Regions from separate parts of the Homo sapiens genome. Here region 1 is linked to region 2. A link means that fine-mapping ties the variant in region 2 to the expression of a gene that starts in the linked region. Tissue or cell type: whole blood. Region 2 holds a variant in brackets; the other region holds the start of a gene. All regions are shown on one strand. Distances are from middle to middle.

The links. PIP is the estimated chance that this variant, and not a neighbour inherited with it, causes the effect.
Region 1: it holds the start of CACUL1, and the variant in region 2 is fine-mapped to the expression of CACUL1 in whole blood (TOPMed, PIP above 0.99).

What each region holds. Positions count from the first base shown.
Region 1 is chr10:118,749,433-118,759,715 of GRCh38, forward strand. It overlaps CACUL1 (CDK2 associated cullin domain 1), which reads right to left and starts at 5,538. Exons shown (of 9, transcript NM_153810.5): 1 at 4,964-5,538. The coding sequence starts at 5,330. LOC107987151 (a long non-coding RNA gene) reads right to left here and starts at 10,017. Exons shown (of 2, transcript XR_001747604.3): 1 at 9,201-10,017; 2 at 8,321-9,154. RefSeq lists enhancers at 5,467-5,606, 5,605-5,899.
Region 2 is chr10:118,669,151-118,679,433 of GRCh38, forward strand. CACUL1 (CDK2 associated cullin domain 1) reads right to left here. Exons shown (of 9, transcript NM_153810.5): 9 at 7,261-10,283. Among named protein-coding and RNA genes, the nearest start is that of PRLHR, 79 kb to the left of the region's middle. The variant T/G (reference allele first, on the strand shown) is at 5,434.

The DNA.
Region 1 (10,283 bases), 80 kb after region 2:
CTGTTATAATGGACAGAAAAGAAAAACTCTAGATATATTAAACAGAGGTCTCACCTAAGTGGCATAATGGAAAGCCATGTAACCTCACCTAAAACCCACAATGAGCCTATTCACAGACACAGAAATGCTGGAATAAAGAAGAGGATGAGTTCCACTGAGGAAGAACCCCACATAATTAAAGTCTTCCTCCTAGCCTTTTCCAATAGAACATGCAGGTATTTATTAGGGAGATAGTACATTTGGGAAATGGAAATCACTGAGACTTTTCAAAGATTAATAAACACTGGCTCTAAGCCAATACGAACCCTAAGAGACAGGAACGTCACTATGGTAAACCAGGCAGATCAGGGGCTTATGGACGTCACATAAATGGTGTTTTGGCCTCAATCCATCTCACAGTAGGGCTGGTGGACCCGTAGTAACACTGTAACTCCCCCAGTTCTGAAACTAGTTCATGGTTCCCTAACCTGTGAAGTCAGGAATATCAACATAGGAAGGGCTAGATGTACCCTTTCCTACCAAAGTAATAAACTCGAAGCAACAAACAACACATCTCTGTGGGAACTATAGAAAACACTATCAATGTCAAAGACTTTAAAAATAAGAAAGGAGGGCCGGGCGTGGTGGCTCACGCCTGTAATCCCAGCACTTTGGGAGGCCAAGGCGGGTGGATGACCTGAGGTCAGGAGTTTGAGACCAGCCTGACCAACATGGTGAAACACATCTCTACTAAAAATACAAAAATTAGCCGGGCATGGTGGTGCACACCTGTAATCCCAGCTACTCAGGAGGCTGAGGCAGGAGAATTGCTTGAATCCGGGAGGCGGAGATTGCAGTGAGCTAAGACTGCACCACGGCACTCCAGCCTGGCGACAGAGCGAGACTGTCTCAAAAAAAAAAAAGGAATGGTGATAATTATGACATTCTTATTTCATGGGTCTGTTTGGCCAGAGCAAAAGAGATGAGTCTTGGAGCATGACTGTGGATTATCATCGATCAAATCCAAAGTGACTCCAATTTTAGTTGCTGTTCCAGACATGGTCTCTTCACTGTGACAAATCAACACCATCCCTGGCACCTACCATGTATCCATCAAGATAATAAATGCTTTTTATCTCTGTCCCAAAACTAGAAACCAACAGAAGCTGTTTTCACCTTACAGTCTAAAGTATACCTTCACTGCCATAGCTGAGGGATACATTAACGCGGCAGCTATCTTCCACTATCTGGTCCACAGAGACTTCGGACATCTCAACATCTCACAAGTTCACTACACTGCTATTCCCACAAGCAAGTATACGTTTTCCTGTATTACCATATCCCCATTGCACTTGGCACTATTCATTCAGCTTTCTAATTTTTGTCAACCTAAAGGTGGAAAAAGACATTCCGTTACTATTTTATTCTTTAATTTTTGTGGGTATATAGTAGGCATATATTTTTATGAGGTATATGGGATATTTTGATACAGGCATACAGTGTGTAATAATCCCATCAGGGAAAATGCGGTACCATCACCTCAAGCATTTATCCTTTGTTTTACAAACAATCCAATTATACTCTTTTCCATTACTATTTTAATATGCATGTCTCTGAATATTAATAAATTCATCTCTTCTTATGCTTTTTAGGGTTTCCTATTCTTTCTATAAGCTACTTATTAATATCCTTTGCCTATTTTTCTACAGAAGTTGCTGCCCTCTTGTTGATGTATAGTAAGTAGTCCCTTGTCTAGTCAGATCATCATCCCTTGTTAATTTTAGGCACTGTAAATATCTTCTCTAATTTTTTCATCTTTTGCCAAATGAATAATTTTCATATAATCAAAATAATTAATTTTTCACCTTTATAAACTTTTGAAGCTTTAAAAAGTACTTCCCTGTCCCTAGGGAAAGAGCTTAACATTTTCAATAATGTTAACTTTGGTTTTTCTTTTCACATTTAGGTCTTTAATTCATTTGGAGTCTATCCATTTATGATATTAAATTTATTTTTTCTCTATATAGTGAGTCACTCTCCCTAACAACATATGACTCCTTTCTCCAGTGGTTTATGATGCCACTTAAAAAGTTCCCAACTTTTATACATGTATCCAGGTAAGTCTCTGCCCTCCAATTTGTTTCCTTGGTCTATTTTTCTGTTCTCGCACTTACACCACTTTAACTACAGCCTTGACATCTTAACTTCTAATAAGGCAAGCCTCCCATCCCCAAACAAATCTTTAAGATTGATTCTGTTATTCACAAACTTTATCCCACACACCATATAAATTTTAGACTTAGGCTATTGAGTTTGTCAAACCAAATGTAATTTTGACGTCATTTAAACTGAATTTATAAATTGGAGAAAATTAGTATTCTTGTAAGTAATTTGATCCAAGAGCAAGGAAAATTGTACCATTTATTTAGATTATCCTCTAGTTTCTTTTTCAAGTTTTAAAGTTTCCTTTTTAAAGGTCTTGCGTATTCACGGGTTGATTCCTAGAGACTTTAGAGTTTTGTTGCTATTATTACATATAGTATTTACTTTTGATTATCTTTACTAGTTATCACTAGTTTAGTAAATGCTATCAAATTTTTGTAAGTTTATCTTAAATCCAGCAATCCTGCTAAACTCTTACTAGTTCTAAGTTTTCTCTGGATTTTAATGGTTCATCTAGGTAGGTGATCATATTATCTGCAAATAATAACTTTTATTGCTTCCCTTACAATCTTTATACCTTATTTTTTTGCTCCTTATAATGTTAGCCAGGACCTTCCTACAATGCTAAACAGTAGTAATGACAGGAGCATCCTTATCTTGTTACGGATCTTAAAGTATATGTATCTAAAATTTCTCCATTAAGTATTATTATTTACTGAAGGTTTTTGGTAATGACCTTTATCTAGTTATCTTGTACTCCTAGGTTACCAAGAGTTTTTATCATAAATAGCTGCTGGATCTAGTTGAATGATTTCAGGGCACCAATTGAGATAATCGTAATTTTTTTCCTTTAGTCTATTAAAGAGCTAAATTAGATAAGTAGATGTTAAACCATGCTTTCATCTCTAGGACTAACTCTATGGATCAGGACTCTGTAACACACTGTTGGATTTGATGAGCGAGTATTTATTCTGCAGTATTTTCATTTCTATGCTAAGTAAAACAGACCTATAATTTTCTCTTCTTACATGTCCTTATCTGTTTTAGAATCAAGATTTCACAAGCCTCATAAAATGAACTTGGTATTTTTTCTATTTTCCAGTGCAACTTGCAAAAAGAATTAAGTGTTAAAGTATGGTGGAACTCATCAGCGTATCTGGATGCAGAGCTTCTAAAAAGGGAGATCTTTACCATTTCAGTTTATTAGTTCAAGATATTTCTTCTGATACCAATTTTCACATTTACTAGTTTTCTAAGAACTATATTTTTCATTTAGGCTTTCAAATTCATCAGCCTAAGTTCATAACGTTCTTTTTTTAATCTGATATTTGTAGTTATTTTCCATTTTTCATTTATTTGCATCTTTTTTTCTTGTCGTTTTTATCAGAGGTCTGTCTGCCTAGCTTACTCATCTTTTCACAAAAATAATCTTTTGGTGTGACAAATCCTTTTGTTCTCAATTTTACTGATTTCTGTTCCTAACTTTATGCTCTTTTTTGAACTCTTCAAAGGAACTTTACTAAGGCAATCTTCCTTCGTGACTCAGGTGAAGTCATTCTGCCACTCTACAGGAGGTCTGGTTCCACAACACAGCCTTCAACACACAAACTATACAATATAAACATGATTATCATGAATAAGGAGAAAAAGCGTATATAATCTTACCAAACGTACATATCAATGTCTTTGACTAAGGCAGTATCTTGGGGCAAATAAAATTACGCGCTGTTCCCACACACAGTGTGTAAGATTCCGACTATCTGCATCAAGGCAAATATTTTCTCTGCACAGCTAACTGGACAAGTACAGCTTCATAAAATTAGTAGCTAGAAATGAACTCTCCAGTTGCTTTACCAGATGCCACTCAAAACTTGCAGTTAATAATAGGAGAGAAAAACCTGGCTGTGATGGTCACAATCATTTTCAACATCCTATCACCACCACCACCGCCACGCACACATACACACAAACCAAAGTAAAAGCACATTCTTTTCCTAGCTATGGAAGCATACATATATCCTGGTCAGAGGCAGTTTCGGATTACAAAACAGATTTTGGTCTTAAATCTTAATGCGTGCAATTGAGCGTTAAGACAGACTACTAACATAAAGTTCAACATGCAACCCAATCTTGGGTTTGGACACAAGACATAACCCATCCTGAAAGGCTTATTCTTATGAGTGTAAGCTCTGAAAAGTGATTTTATGCATTATTAGCTTCAAGACGATGTCGGAGCTGCCACTGCATCGGAAAGCAACTCATTATTTCCCTAGCAGGATGCAAAAGTGTAACACAGTAGAGAAGGAACAAGGTGTAGATATAGGTCAACTTTCAAATTCCTTACTTGTTTAACACAGCCTGGCCAAAAACACAAGAACACAAGTTGCCAGATTTCTTTTCTCTCTCTGGCTGCAGAAGACTGAAGGCCTTTCCCTAACGAGACTCAGGCAGCCTTATTTTCCCCTCACTTTGAGGGTGAAACTTCAAGAGAAGACGGGTGCGAAAAGAGCTTCCCAATGTTGAGAGACTGCCAGTTGTGATAGGGATCGCACTGACCGAACTTGGGGCTCCGTGTGTACCAGGCTGCCTCTCTAGGCCAGGTAATACAAGAAGCCAGGGCCGCTCAGGCGCTGGCCGCAGACACCAAATGAGGGGGAGGGGACGGTGAGGGGGAAGGAGGCAGGGAGGCGAAGGCGGACGGGGAGAAGAGGAAAGACCGAGGCCTGAAACAAAGGAAGCGGAGCTTTCTCCAAGAGGGGGTGGATTCGGCGTCCGAGTGAGGTGGAGAAAAGCCAAGGCTGCAGGGAAAGGCTGGACTCACAGAACTTGGAGGTGGAGGTGTTGATGTTGATGGTGGAGCTGGCGGTGGGGGCGGGGGCCGCCTTGGCCACGGCGGCGGCCGCGTCGCAGCTCTTCAACATCATGATCACCCCATTAGCCTCCGGCGGTGGCTGCGGCCCCATCGGGAGCCCCTCCTTGGGGCCTTTCCTGTCCACGGAGACCGCGGGCACCGCCAGCAGCTGCCCCCCCGGAGGCTCTCGGGCAGGGGCCGGGATCGACGAGGGGGGCGGCGGAGGTGGCAGGGGCTGCCGGAAGCCGTCCACCGCAGCCTCCCAGTTGTTGTGGTTCTGGTCGTCCATCATCGCCTCGTAGCTGCCCCCCTCCTCCTCTTCCATGCTTTCCTCCATCCTGCTGGCCCCCGGCACCCGCCCGCCTCACAGGCACCTGCCGCCTGTCTCAACCCCGGGCCAGCGGGCACCGCTGCCTCCCCGAGTTACATCGCCGGCGGCAGGAATGGGCGCAGCGGAGAGGGCTGCGGTGCGCAGGGTCTCTCGCTCTCCGCGGGGCCGACTAGCTTGAAGACGCGGCTGACGGCGGTGGGCGCTCCGGGGCTCTAGTCTGGGAGAGGCAGCCGTAAAGCAGCGGCGCTCCTCACGACGTTTTACAGCGGCTTCCAACAGGCAGTTGGAAAGGGCAGCTGGGGGCGCGGCCAGGAGGGCACGTGGTGCGAGGGACTGGCCGCGAGAAAGCGGAGCCAAAAGGGGCGGGAGCTGTGAGTCACTCCCACGCAACAGGGCAGAGGTTCGCCCCGCCTCGGCTGGCAGGGAGCTAACAGGGGAGGCGCGACGGGTCGGGACGGGCATTCGCCGGCCCCGCCCCCTGCCCGGCCTCACGTGACAAAGGTGTGTCTTGCGCACGCGCGTTCGCAATCTGGTTACCATGACGACGAGGCCCTCGCCGGTTCCTGAGGACGCGCGCGGAGCAGTCTTGGCAGTAGCTGTGGACTGGCCAGAGTGATTGGAGGTGTTTTCCTCGCGTCCTCCAAGTCTACGGGGCCTTCGCACCTCTGAGTGCCTGAGAGCCCCGGCTTTTGCTTGGGACGGAGGTACGGGACCACAAGAGGCCCCGGGGTCGCAGGTTATAAACGGATGAGACCGCCCTGGGCGGCCCGTGGTCCGACTGCTCTTGGGTCGGTCCCCAGCCGTCGCGACACACACGCACAAAATCGAGAATAAAAACCGAATCACACATAGCAGGATGGCGCAAAAAAGAAATGCGTTTGAGTTACTCATGTGTTTTTAAAATTCCTTTACGTTTGTATGCACTAAGGCCAGCAACCCAACTTTTAAAAATGCCGGCTCAGGCCGGGCGCGGTGGCTTACTCCTGTAATCCCAGCACTTTGGGAGGCTGAGGCGGGCGGATCACGAGGTCAGGAAATCGACACTATTCTGGCTAACACGGGAAACCCCGTTTCTACTAAAAATACAAAAAAGTTAGCCGGGCGTGGTGGCACGTGCCTGTTGTCCCAGCTAGCTGCTCGGGAGGCTGAGGCAGAATTGCTTGAACCCGGGAGGCAGAGGTTGCAGTGAGCCGAAATCGCGCCACTGCACTCCAGCCTGGGCAACAGAGCGAGACTCCATCTCAAAAAAAAAAAAAAAATGCGAGCTGGGCGCAGTGGCTCACGCCTGTAATTCAACCACTTGAGGAGACAGAGATGGGAGGCCCGCTTGTGCCCAGGAATTCGAGACCAGCCAGACCAGCATAACAAGACCACGCCTCTAAAAACAAAATTAGCCTGGCATGGTGGCGTGTGCCTGTGGTCCCAGCTACTCTGGAGGCTTAGGTGGATCACTTGAGCCCTGGAGGTCAAGGCTGCAGTGAGCCGAGATCGCGCAACTGCACTCCAGCCTGGGTGACAGAGTGAGACTGTCTCCAAAAAAAAAAAGAGAATTAAGTGGTATGCTGAAGGGGAAAACATAAAACCTTAGAATTACATGTGTGGCAAAAAGAGAGGCAGAAGGAAGGCAAATTCTGTTTCAAACAACTAATGGTTTATCATCAACAGACTCTAGGTAGATGGCTGGGTGAGTGCGATGGGATAAAGAAGGGTCTTTACATTTAAAAAAAAAGTCCAATATACAGGGAAGATAGAGTCAAAAAAGTGTCTCTAACATACTGTGTCATAAAGCAAGTCTTTACATATCTAAGGATTTATATCATAGCGACTATATGGCCACAAAATATATGAAGCGAAAATGAACAGAAGTATAAGAAGACAAAGAAATCTACCATCAGAGTAGGTGATTTTTCACTCCCTCTCTAATTGCAGTGAGTTGAATACAGCCTCCCACAAGATATGTCCATATCCTAATTCCTAGAACTTGCGAGTATGACCTTATTTGGAAAAACGGCGTTTGCAGATGTAATTAAAGTTCTTGAGATGAGAAGATCATCCTGGATTATCCAGGTGGGCCATCAATCCAATGATAGGTGTCTTTATAAAAGAGAGGTAGAAGAGAAGAGAAGGTAATGTAACCACAGAAGCAGAGATTGGAGTGATGGCATTCCCAAGTCAAGGAATGCTGACAGCACCCAAAGCTGGAAGAGACAAATTTTCCTCTTGAGCCTCTGGAGGGATTGTGACCCTGCCAACATGTAGATTTCAGACTTCTAGATGCCAGAACTGAGAATTCATGTCGGTTTTTTTAAGCCACCTATTGTGATAATTTGTTAAGCAACTGATTACAGGAAACTAATACATAGACCGAGGGGACCAAAAAAATCTTTAAGGTACTGGAAGAGTTGAGTAACACAATTACCAAGCTTAATCTAATATATATGTGTAGAATATTGCCTTAATGACCATAGAATACACACTCCTATCAAGAATATGCTAAACATTTACAAAAATTGAACATACTGTGTCATAAAGCAAGTCTCCACATATCTAAGGATTTATATCATAGTAACCACATTTTCTGGTCACTATATAGGTAAGTTAAAAATCAATAACCAAAAGGTAACTGGCAAGCCCCATATTTCCACTATTCCAATTAACTCATGGGTCATAAAATCATAATAGAAATTAGAAAACATTTAGAACTGATGGGCTTGGTACTAATCATAGCAATGTAACTTCCATCCTCTTGAGGGCCCTGCTCCAAGGGTTTTTACCCAGCACACTGATGAATACTGAACCTTTTGTGTGTGTGTTGTCAAAATGATCAATATAACAGCCATTTTTGCTGTAATTAAACTACTGTGACAAGACCTAATGACAGTTGAGCGAAACCAGTCACTGACAGGGGACAATTTCCCATAAGAAATCCTACTGAAGGGAAACCAAATGAACATATTGGTAACTGGTTGATTTTGTGGCATTATGAGACATTGTTATACTTTAGAGCATATTATATTTTAATAGTTATTAACATAAATCTTTGATTTGTTCTGGGTTGTGGAGATGGGGTATAACATTATTAGCAACATTTACCCAAAAACAGTGAACACAAGGTTAGTAGTTACTATGACGTTCCATAGTCGCAGATATTCATCTATTTGTTCGGTTTTTGTTTGTCTGTTTCTATTTCCCACTAGGCTGTGAATTTCATTAAAGCAGGATAAATATATGTGTAAAATTTCTGTGTAAGTTTGGATACATAAAGAGGAAACTAACTCAAAACTCAATAGCAGTTATCTAGGGATAGTGAGATTATGGATGGTCTTAATGTTCTTCTTTATATCTTTCAATGTTTTCTTGGTTCTCTACAATAAGTATGTATTATTTTTATAATCAGAAAAGAATTCTGAAACTTAAAGATTAACAAATAAAAACGTTAAGTATAAATTGGGATTCCATAGGCTAAAATGTTTGTTTTGGCTTCCAGAAGCAAAAACTCAAATAAAAATTGCTTTAAAATCAAGGCTGTTCATTGGCTAAGAGACTGAGAAGGTCTAGGAATGGTGGAGGTGAGGCAGGGCTCAGCCATTACTGAGCTCTGCTTCTCTGTGGTGTTGTCTTGTTCTCTCTTGTGCATGTTTCACCCTTAGGCTGCCTACAAAATGCCTGCCACAGCCCCTGGCCTCAGGTCTATGGACAAGAAGTCAAGATGAAAAGGGCCTGTGAATTCTGGTAGCTTTCTATTATGAGAAAATTCCCAGAAGCCCTCAGGAAACTTCCTCACAGTGTCTCATTGGTCCATTCCTAAACCAATCACATGGCACTTAGACCTGGATTCCAGAGCCCTTTACTGGAAAGGGTATGGACTCATTAGACCTGGATTCCAGAGCCCTTTACTGGAAAGGGTATGGATTCATTCCTGGAAAATAAAGCCCATTCCTGGAACTTAGCATGGGATCAGCTTCTCCCTAAGTACATTGGCTGAGAGGGGAAGGAGTGGCTAGAAGAACAAATATTGGAGTCAATCGGGAATGTTTAAAGTGCTGGGTAGGCTACAATTCCATTATAGGCCAAAGTATGGAATCCCCTAGAACTCCTATTACCTAACCTTACCCCAGCCTCTCCACTACCTGCCCTTCATAAATGCCTCCCTAATCAATATATCTATGCAAAATTATGTACATACTGATTAGAATCAAGAAAGACATAACCGGCCAGGCAGTGTCTGATATCTGTAATCCCAACACTTTGGGAGGCCAAGGCGGGTGGATCACCTGAGGTCAGGAGTTCAAAACCAGCCTGGCCAACGTGTTGAAACCCTGTCTCTACTAAAAATACAAAAATTAGCTGGACGTGGCGGCATGCACCTGTAATCCCAGTGTGTCCAGAATTGGTGGGTTCTTGGTCTCACTGACTTCAAGAATGAAGCTGCAGACCCTCGCAGTGAGTGTTGCAGCTCTTAAGGTGGCACGTGTGGAGTTTGTTCCTTCTGATGTTCGGATGTGTTCGGAGTTTCTTCCTTCTGCTGGGATCATGGTCTCGCTGGCTCAGGAGTGAAGCTGCAGACCTTCACAGTGAGTGTTATAGCTCATAAAAGCAGTGTAGACCCAAAGAGTGAGCAGCAGCAAGATATATTGCAAAGAGTGAAAAAACAAAGCTTCCACAGTGTTGAAAGGGACGGGGGCGGGTTGCCACTGCAGGCTCCGGCAGCCTGCTTTTATTCTCTTATCTGGCCCCACCCCCATCCTGCTGATTGGTCCATTTTACAGAGAGCCGAGTGGTCTGTTTTGACAGGGCACTGATTGGTGCGTTTACAATCCCTGAGCTAGACACAAAGGTTCTCCAAGTCCCCAATAGATTAGCTAGATACAGAGTGTGGACACAAAGGCTCTCCAAGTCCCCACCAGAGTAGCTAGATACAGAGTGTCAATTGGTGCATTCACAAACCCTGAGCTAGAC
Region 2 (10,283 bases):
AGCCCATTAGACCAGAATGAGACTCCCAGGGTGGCCGCAGAGCAGCAGCATTTCAGCTCATCAGAGGAAGCTGCCAAATGAGCCAGTCTGAGCAGCATTTGGGGGTAGATGTTCGCTTCCTATTAACAGGCTAAATTGCGGAAGTGGCTCAGAGTTTCATTCCCACTGTGCCACTCCCTGGGGTCTGCAGCGTGGCCTGGGAGAAAAAGGCACAGCCTCGGGGTCAGACCCGAGTTGGACCCAGCTCTGTCCCCTGGTACCTGAGGGACTCTGGATAAATTACTGGATTTCTCTGAACTCCACTTATCCCATTTGTAAAACAGGATTAGAAGCCCCGCCATGGGACTGTTTTGGTCATTAAATGCCAATTTGTATATAAAGTGCTTAGCGCAAGCCTGACGACAGAAACACTCGGTAATTGAAAGCTACTGTTTTTCCACAAGGACTTCCTTTCAGGGACCGCAGCCTTGGACGGAGGCCTGGGTACAGATTTAATCAGATGCAGGCGCTCCGGATTACCATGGAGATCGTCTAATCTAATACGTGGAGGCTGCTCAGTGACTGTTTATTGAGTTAAAAGAAAACACAAATCTAATTTTAGCCCAAAGAAGAGAAAGTTAAAAGGGAACTTGAACAGGCTTTGGCTAGACAGTATAATAATTACTGCTGTTTTTTTCAATACTTACTAAGTGATAACTGTTTTCCTTTAAAGAGAAAAGTCATCTAAATAATCATAGCTACTATTATTGTCTGTAATGTTAGTGCTAACCCATTTCTAGTAGAGGGCACCCCCAGCTTATGGGTGGGGGATGGAGACTTCTGTAGGCAGAGACAGAGTTTTAGAGGCCTGTGCTCCTAACCAGCACCCATGCTGAACCCCGGAAAGATGATGTGACAGCATCCAGCTCTCACTCCTCTCTGTCTCACTCAGAGGAAGGGGACAGAGAGGCGGCAGCCCTCCAAGAAGGCAGATGCCATGGTGCTGTCCCAACAGCTGCTGGCAGTGTCAGAGGGGACGGCCCTGAGGACAATAGGGGTCCTCAGGGTGGGGGTGTTGCCAAAGGAGATTAACATTTGAGTTAGTGAACTGGGAAAGGCAGACCCACCCTCAATCTGGGTGGGCACCTAGCAGTGCCACCAGTGTACCCGATGTCCCCCTGGAGTCAGATAGCCCTAGTAGGACACAGCAACAAACCTGGCATGGAGAATGGAGGGAGCAGCAGCACAGACCCCAGGGACATGAGAAATAAGATGCCAGGCACAAAGCAAGGACCTGCTCAATAGGGGCCTCATTTAGAGAACAAAAACTGAGGCCTGAGATTCAGTGTCCTGCTCAGGACCCAGTGAAGCAGGGTGGGAGCGGAGGCTCCCTTCCAGCAGATCCTGTGACCAGTGATCAGAGGACCACCCTCGCCCCTGCCCATTCCAGCCATTAGAACCTGTGGTGTGTGGGCAAGGGTCCCCAAACAGGGCCCGTCACCTGCCCACCCACTCCCAGAAGGCCACCAGTGCTCTCACAGGCTGAGGGCCAGGGCCAAAGCTGCCAGGCTGGCCCTGTGAGCTCCTGCTGCAGTGGCGGCAGAAATCCACCTGCTGCAGTCTGGATATGGGAAATGCATTTTTCACCCCATCAGGCATCAGGGCGAAAGCAATTTACAAATGGTCAGCTGGGGGAGAGACGCGGCCAGCAGTGTTTTGTAGTCCATTAAAAGGTTTGGACCGGGGCTTTGAGAGATGTGCCAGCAACTGTGCAGAGGCATTCATTCACCAGACCCTGCTCATGCAGCTCACTTTGGAGCTGGGCAAGGACCCCCGGGATGCCAGTCAGTGTAAGAGGACACCTGGGTTTCTCTGCTGGTGGGTCATCGGGGATCAAGGGCTCTGTATTAGTTAGGGTTCTCTGGAGAGACAGGACTAATAGGACAGATGTATATACGAAAGGGAGTTTATTAAGGAGTATTGGATCACACCATCACAAGGTGAAGTCCCACAATAGGCCATCTGCATGCAATCTGAGAAGCAAGGAAGCCAGTCCGCGTCCTAAAAACCTCACAAGTAGGGAAGCCGACAGTGCAGCCTTCAGTCAGTGGCTGAAGGCCTGAGAGCCCCTGGCAAACCACTGGCATAAGTTCAAGAGTCCAAAAACTGAAGAACTTGGAGTCTGATGTTTGAGAGAAGGCAGCATTCAGCATGGGAGAAAGATGAAGGCCAGAAGACTCAGCCAGTCTAGTCCTCCCACATTTTCGGCCTGCTTTTATCTAGCCGTGCTGACAGCTGATTAGATGGTGCCCACCCAGATTGAGGGTGGGTCTGCCTCTCCCAGTTCACTAACTCAAATGTTAATCTCCTTTGGCAACACCCCCACAGACACCCGCAGGAACAATACTTTCAACCTTCATTCCAATCAAGTTGACAATATTAACCATCACAGGCTCTTAGGGACTGTGTCCCTGGGCACTCTACCCCAGGAACTCTAGACTAAGGATCAGCCTAGACAGTCTCCCCCTTTTTTTTCCTAAAGAGAAAATGCAGAGGGAAGAAACCAGCAAGCCACCATCTCATAAATGTATTCATTTGTTTACCACTGTTTTAGAAATGCTCAAAGCAGCTAACGAAGACTTCACTTATGAGGAAGGGATTACATGCAAAGCAAGAACACACAGGGGATCCTCTGGGGGTCTTAGGGCATGTGGGCTGCAAGCGGCAAACACTGACTGTCACCCCTTACAGTGAAAAGGAAAGACCATTGAGGTGCTACAGCCTTTGGAAGGGTAAGGATCAGACAGCCCCAGCACCAGCTCCGGGTGTCTCTGCTCTTGGGAAGGGCCAGCTCCTGCCTTTTGAGGACTTCAAATTGCCCCATACATAATTCCAGCTCCAGGAGAGGGGCCTGATTGGCTCAGGTACATTCCCATCTGCTAGCTGAAGAAGGCAGGACGCCTTCACCAGCAGTCCCTGCACCTACCTCCGCCCAGGACTATGTTGAACAGACAGAAGCAGTTCCCCCAAGAAAATTATATAAAGAAGTGCAAATGGCAGCTGAGCAGGCCAAAGCAACAGTGTTCACTACCATGGGCCAGTTTTTTTTTTTTTTTTTAATAGATGAGACTGGAAGTCAGAGTGGCTCAGTGACTTAATAATGGCGGAGCCAAAATTCTGTCTGATCCGATTCCAGGATGAGCTCTCCCTGCAATAGCATTCAGCCGCCTCGAGTATATCTGACCTTGGCCTGAGTCTCCTTCTCTCTGAACAGCATATGATGATTAGCCACTTGATATGGTCTGGCTGTGTCCCCAGCCAAATATAATCTTGAATTCCCCCATGTTGTGGGAGGGACCCAGTGGAAGGTGACTGAATTAGGGGAGCGGGTCTTTCCTGCGCTGTTCTTCTGATAGTGAATGAGTCTCCAGAGATCTGATGGTTTTAAAAATAAGAGTTTCCCTGCACAAACTCTTTGCCTGCTGCCATCCATGTAAGACGTTGACGTGCTCCTCCTTGCCTTCCACCATGATTGTGAGACTTCCCCAGCCACATAGAACTGTAGTCCAATTAAACTTCTTTTGTAAATTGCCCAGTCTTTGGCAGTAGCGTGAAAATGGACTAATGCGCCACTCAATTGTGTCTTCTGGATCATTATTTTAGCTTAGGGAGTCAGTGGTCCTGCTGAGAGATCTTGCTCTTGACAGCCCTGTTGGGTCCCTTTCCCCACAATGTGTCCCAAAAGTCTGGCCTTGCACTTCCCAAATGCTGGGGCACTAGACTGGGCTCTGTCTGCAGGCCCAGAGGCTACCCAGAGCTTAGGGAGCCCTATCCAACAGAGAACGCTGCTAACAGCCCACAGCCACCCTCAGCAGAGACCCTCAGACAGTCCACAGGCTCTGCTGAGAATGACACTGTTTGGGCATAAGGAGGCCGAGTTATGGCCCTTGGTCTCTTCTGCCATCCAGGGAGCTGAGCCACAGTGCAGCAGACTGATCTGCTGCCATAGGAATTGGGCACTCACTGGGCACATGCTCTGTGCCAGGCCATGTGTTATGGTTATATCTTGAAGCCCTTACATCAACCACTGACAGTGAGCAATTGTTCAGGACCAGTGATTGTTCATGTCTGTGAGTTCCAGCTTTCTCAATGGAAAATGAGGCTGTTGTGAGTTGAGACGATAGGCATAGAGTGCTTTGTACAGTGCCAGGCGCACAGTAAGCGCTTGGTAACTACTCCGGGGGAGTAGTTACAGTAGTGGTAGCTGCTGTTATTCTGAGATCTGAAGGCTGGGAAACATCTAGCCAGGGAAAAACTGAAAGCATGAGTGAAAGCGTACTACGGTTTCACAGCGGAGTAAACTGAAGCTCAGAGAGCTGAGTGACCTGCCCAGGGAGAGACAGCTCAACAGGGCCTGAAGCCAGCTGGCCCCAAAGGTATCAAGTCTGAAGCATCTGTTCTTTCAATTGCACTGTGCTGCCTCCAAAGTCCTGATCAATGCCATTTGCTTGTTCCCTTCACCTCTGAATCTCCACGTACCTTCACGTCTCCTGCCCATGAGGGCTCTCCTGGGCCCTGGCCTGAGGTGCCCTGCCCAGCTAAACGGCCCTGGTGCCCTAAGGCATCCATTATATGTAATTTCGCTCCTGTGCATCTAAAAGCTGTTTACCATCCTTGGGAAAAGTGACAAAAATTATTCAAACACCCTTTTCTGCAGAGCTTTATTCATGAAGCCCCGGCTGAAAAGGCTCTCTCTGAAGTTATTATGGTCATGGATGGCTTCACCACCACTGCCGGGGGAGGTATGATTAGTGAGGTCTTAAGAACAGCCCTGCTAGGTCTAACAGAGGCCCACAGTCCAGTGTTCACCTGTACCAGAGGCTGCCAAGAGGGAGGACTGAGCAGTAAAGCAAATCACCTTGTAGATGGGGGTTCAAATCTTCCATTGTGTGATTTGGGGCAGGTTATTTAAATCTGACATCTGGGCTGTTTCATCTTGTAATAGTTGTATTGTTGTGTAACAAATTACTCACAAAATTTAGTGGCTTAAACCAGCACACGGTTATTCCAGAGTTTCCCTGGGTCAGGAGTCTGGGCACAGCTTAGCTGAATTCTCTGTCTCAGGCTTTGCCGCTAGGCTGTGATCAAGGTGTCAGCCAGGGCCACAGTCATCTCAAGATTCAACTGGACCAACATCCATTCCAAGTTCACTCGGACCGTCAGCAGGATTTACAGCCCCTCGGGCTATTAGATTGAAGGCCTCAGTTCCTTGGTAGCTGTTGGCTGGATGCCACCCTCAGTTCCTTGCCCAGTGGCCCTGTCAAGTGAAAGCTGAGGAGAGAACACAGGCAAAATGACGAGTCTTCTGTAACCTAATCACAGAAGTGACAGCCCATCACCTGGGCCACAGTATTTTCAACAGAAGCAAGTTGCTGGGTCCAGCCCACACTCAAG[T/G]TGAGGGGATTACATTAAGGGTGTGAATGCGGGAGTGGCAGTCACTCGGGTCGTCTCAGAACGGCTCACCATACATCTGTAGAGTGCCACGAGTCACTGCCTCACTGGATTGCTCCTAAGATGTGCGTGAAACACCTCCCATGCAGACAGGTATCCAGTGAAGAGCAGCTGTCACTGTGTCACATGTGCTCAGATGACATCTATTTCCTTTCCCCAATGCTGTCTGAGCTGTCTTAGGGACAAGATTGTTCACCAAACACTATCTCAACAAGCAAGGCCCTATTTTTACTTCCTAACACCTTGTTACATACCACCATCCTGCTTAGCTTTGTTTTGGGTGAATCTGGACATACCCAAGAAAAAATTTTCCTTTTCAGACAGGGACTTTTTCTTTCGCCTATGCTAATGTAAGCTCTTTGTCTTCTTTAATCATAGCTCCCTGGCTATTCTAGTCAGGAGGGTGACTATTCTGTGTTGTTTATAGATTCTAGGAGAAATCATCTACCATGACTGTCAAAGCAAAGCACCTTGGTTAATCCTGAAGAGCAGATATGTTGTGTAAAAACAAAGTTGATGTGGAGTCAAAGTTTGGTTTTCCCATCTCCCAAAGGCTCCCAATGGACAGCTGTCACAGACCTACGTAGTGGACTCACGTAACCAAGAGTCACTAGCAGCCTTTCACCGTCCTGAGACCCAGCTTTTTCCAGACAGCCCCACCTCCTTAACCCAATGTGGGCTTGAGCCAGGTCCCAGCCCCAGGAGGGTAGATCTGTTTGGTCTAAGTCTACCATGGTGGTCCCATTCTCCTCCTCAGTTATCCCAATGCCCCTCAATGAAAACCGAAGGGAACTGCGCTGGTGTGGCTTCAGGGAAGTTACACTGCTCTTAAAAGAGACATGCTGGGGAACAGAGGCCCTCTGCTTCAACTGGTTGTTGTCATTCTGACAACTGCAGCAGTCAAGTAAAGACCTTGAAGGAAGCAACACTGAGCACAAAGTGAACATAATGAGGCTGGCAGAGCAGAAAGCAGGAAGAAATCCAGGTCCTGGACATCAATTAGCTGTTGTATTTATCAGCCCTGGAACTGCCCAACCTTGAGACTTCTGTGAAGTGATGTCTCCCTCACTGTTTAAGCCAGTGATCTCCAAAGTGAACAAGGTGATCCACTGAGGTACAGGAAGAAAACAGAAGTTATGTTTTTAAGAGTAAAGAAGCCTTACCAATACATAACAGACACACAGGCTGCATGGCAAGTGGTCAGGCAGCACATGCCAGTCAGTGAGGAATCCTCAAGGAGTGCTGAGAGCTCCATGTTGCAGAGAGAGCAACAGCGGCACCACTCTCTTCCAGAATATTGTCATCTGTGTGCCCCATAAGCCAACTGGACTTAGATTTTTATTATCTTACACAAAAGCATCTTGACAACAGTTTATAATGAGATGAGGAAATTAAACCCTCAAATTTGCCGGTTATCTCATAGCAAAATTCTTAAATATGGTATTTTTTTAATTGATAAAAAGACTTGAATGTGCCAATCTTTCCTGTGGTGACAAGTGTCTGTAATCAATATGCAATCTAGAAAGTATTTTTTTAAATGGACAGATTTAAACTGACCCTTCAAGGTAAAGATAACATTTAATACTAACGATGACCGAGCAAGAATTCATGAAAATGTGTTGCCAAAAATTGTCACCTATAAAAACTCTTCAAAGTGTACACTTAAACTTGGGAAATGAAATTCAAAAATAAGTTACAGCAGGTTTTGAACCCATCTGTTAGCAAAAATAAAAATGCAACACTCCTAATTATTCAGCAAAAACAAGTTACTGACATTGGAAAAGATGAAAATTTATTATAAAAATTTCAACAACACACTTTTGCAAAATTGGTGGATGGAACTCAAAAATATTTTCAGTAAGCACAGCCATATTTGGATCCACAGATCTTAATTAATGAAGTGACTTATTCAGCTACAATAGTCATTAAAACCAAGCATGAAAATAAACTTACCTTAAGAACATTAAGTTGTTTTTATAAAGTGTTAAAACTAGGAGTTTCAAAAATGACAAGCATTTTTAATCATGACTCTCTCTAAAAGAACATTTTTTTAGAAAGAGCAAAGGTTTATTAACCACAAATACCACAAACAATATTTTAAAACATTTTTACTTCATCTTTTTGATTTTCTACTTTTGCTTTATATGTATTGGTAACATATGTTCAAATTTAAACATTTTAAAATATATATGTCTATGTACACACACACACACACACACACACACACACACACTGGGGTGTGCACACTACGGCATTAAAGGCAGGTGAGTGAGTTTAATAGGGTTTTCGGTTTCATTGCTTGTATTCTTAGAAAAAACTTCTCCAATCCCAAGAAAAAATACTACTTTCTAGTTTTTACAACATTTTTTTCTTTTTTAGTTCACAATCTGGAATTTCTCTTGGTGAATGGTATGATAGGAATCAGTTTAATGTTCTCTAATTATACCAGCACCTTTCATAAAATAATTGACCATGGACAGCATGATTTCAAAAAGCCGCCTTTAGTGTACTCTAAATTCTAAATTTGAGTTTTCTATTTTCTAAATTACCTTCCATTGACTTATCTGTTTACCCTGGCATAAGTCTTTTAATTTAATTGCACTTAGAAAGTGATTTTTTTTGGTACAGCAAGTTCCTTCCATTTTCTTCACTTTCAATGGGGATTTTCCTATTTTCATCTGTTTATACTTCCATGAGTTTTTTAGATTATATAAATACTGTTGGTTATCTGAATTGGCTTTACACTGAATATACATTAACTCAGAGAACTGGCATGTTTAGAATGGTCCAAACGTTCATATTATGAAGTGCTTCCAAGTCCCCGTTCTCCCCTCTGTTCTCATTCCCCTCCACCACCCTCTCCTGAGGAAACTATGTTCCTGAATGTTAATAACTGTCTTTCCTTTATAGCTTTACTACTTGTGTCTGAGTCCCTAAACAATATACTTAGTTTTTTCTGATTTTGAACTTTACATAAAGGTACCCATGCTGGCTCTATTCTGACTTCACTCAATGATTTCTGAGATGCATCCATGTTGAAGCCCGCAGTGGTATGATGCCTTGACCACTCTAGAGAATTCCACAGCATACACTTCATTTATTCACTGTATGCTAGATGGGCATTTGGCTCCCTCCTTCATTCCTTTTAATTATTACACATAATGCTGTTATAAACATCCCTGTATACGTTTCTTGGTACACATGCACATGAGTTTTTCTAAGTATAAATAGTGGGCTATTAAGAGGTGCCTATGCTCAATTTCATTAGATAATACTGTTCTCCAAAGTAGAAGTGCAGATTTACACGCCAACAACAGGTGAAGGTTTGTTGTCATAAACTCTCAGATTGTTATTTTCAGACTTCTCATAATTTCTGCCAAGTTGTCAGCAAGGAAATGGTATCTATGCTTTTAATGTGCATTACCTGACGACTAATGAGGCTGAACATCTTTTCACATTTATGGGCCATTTCTGTTTCTTCTGTGAAATGCCTGCTAGTGTTTGGGGTCCGTCTCTCCTGAGTTGTTTTCATTGCTGATTTGCATTCAGGTGCTCTTTAGCAGTTATATTATGAATATTTGTATCTTATTCCAGATTTGGCTTCTCTTTTCACTCTACAGCATGTTTGGTAATAAGTACTTACAATCAATGGTAGCCAAATTACTTATCTACTGATAGTCTGCATTTTCTATCTTGTTGATGAAATTCTTCCCTACTCCAAAGTCATTGTTTTAATCACTACCTTTGGCAGTAAGTGTTAGAATCTTGTAGTGCTAGTTCCCCTCACAATCCATTCAGAAAGGTCTTGGATATCCTTGGCCCTTTGCTCTTCCATTTATATCGACGAATCAAATTGTCAGGTTCCACAGTGAAAATCATTGGGAATTTTTTTGGAATTGCAATTTGGAGAAAAAGTTGAGATTTAGATAATATTGAGTGTTATCCCTTATATTCTCTACACTTATTTAGGTCCATTAAGTTTTTTTTTTATCATTTTCTCATTTTAAAATTTATTCTTAGGTACTTTTTCTTGTCCTATTATAAACAGCATTTCTTAATTACATTAAAAAGCCAATCTTGTATTCCTGAGACCAATCCATTTTGGTCATCATTTGTTACATTTTGAATACACTGTTAGACTTGGTTTGCAAAAACTTATTTTCCTACTGAAGGGTACAATGTGTTTTATGTATGTGTGTGTTATGTATCTGTCAGATCAAATTGATTAGCTGTACTATTTAAATCTTCTATGTCCTTAATAATCTTCATAATTTAGTCTCTGCAAGATCTATTAATTACTGAGAGGGGTATGTTGAAAATGCCCATTATGTTGGTAGACTGACCTATTTCTCTTTGTAGTGTGTTCATTTTTCCTTTTTGTAGTTTTCTTTTAACTTTTTAAATATTTTTCTCGACAGGGTCTCACTCTGTTATCCTAGCTGAAATGCAGTGGTATCATCATAGCTCAATGCAGCCTCAAACTCCTGGGCTCAAGCAATCCTCCTGCCTCACACCTTAGCCTCCAAATAACTAGGACTAAAAGCAGGTACCACCACGCCCAACTTTTTTTGTGTTTTTTTGAGACAGAGTCTCGCTCTGTTGCTCAGGCCAGAGTCCAGTGGTGTGACCTTAGCCCACTGTAACCTCCACTTCCTGGGTTCAAGTTCTTGTGCCTGAGCCACCCAAGCAGCTGGGATTACAGGTGTATGCCACCATGCCTAATTTTTTTTTAATTTATTTTTATTTTTTATTTTTTGTAGAGACAGGGTTTCACCATGTTAGCCAGGCTGGTC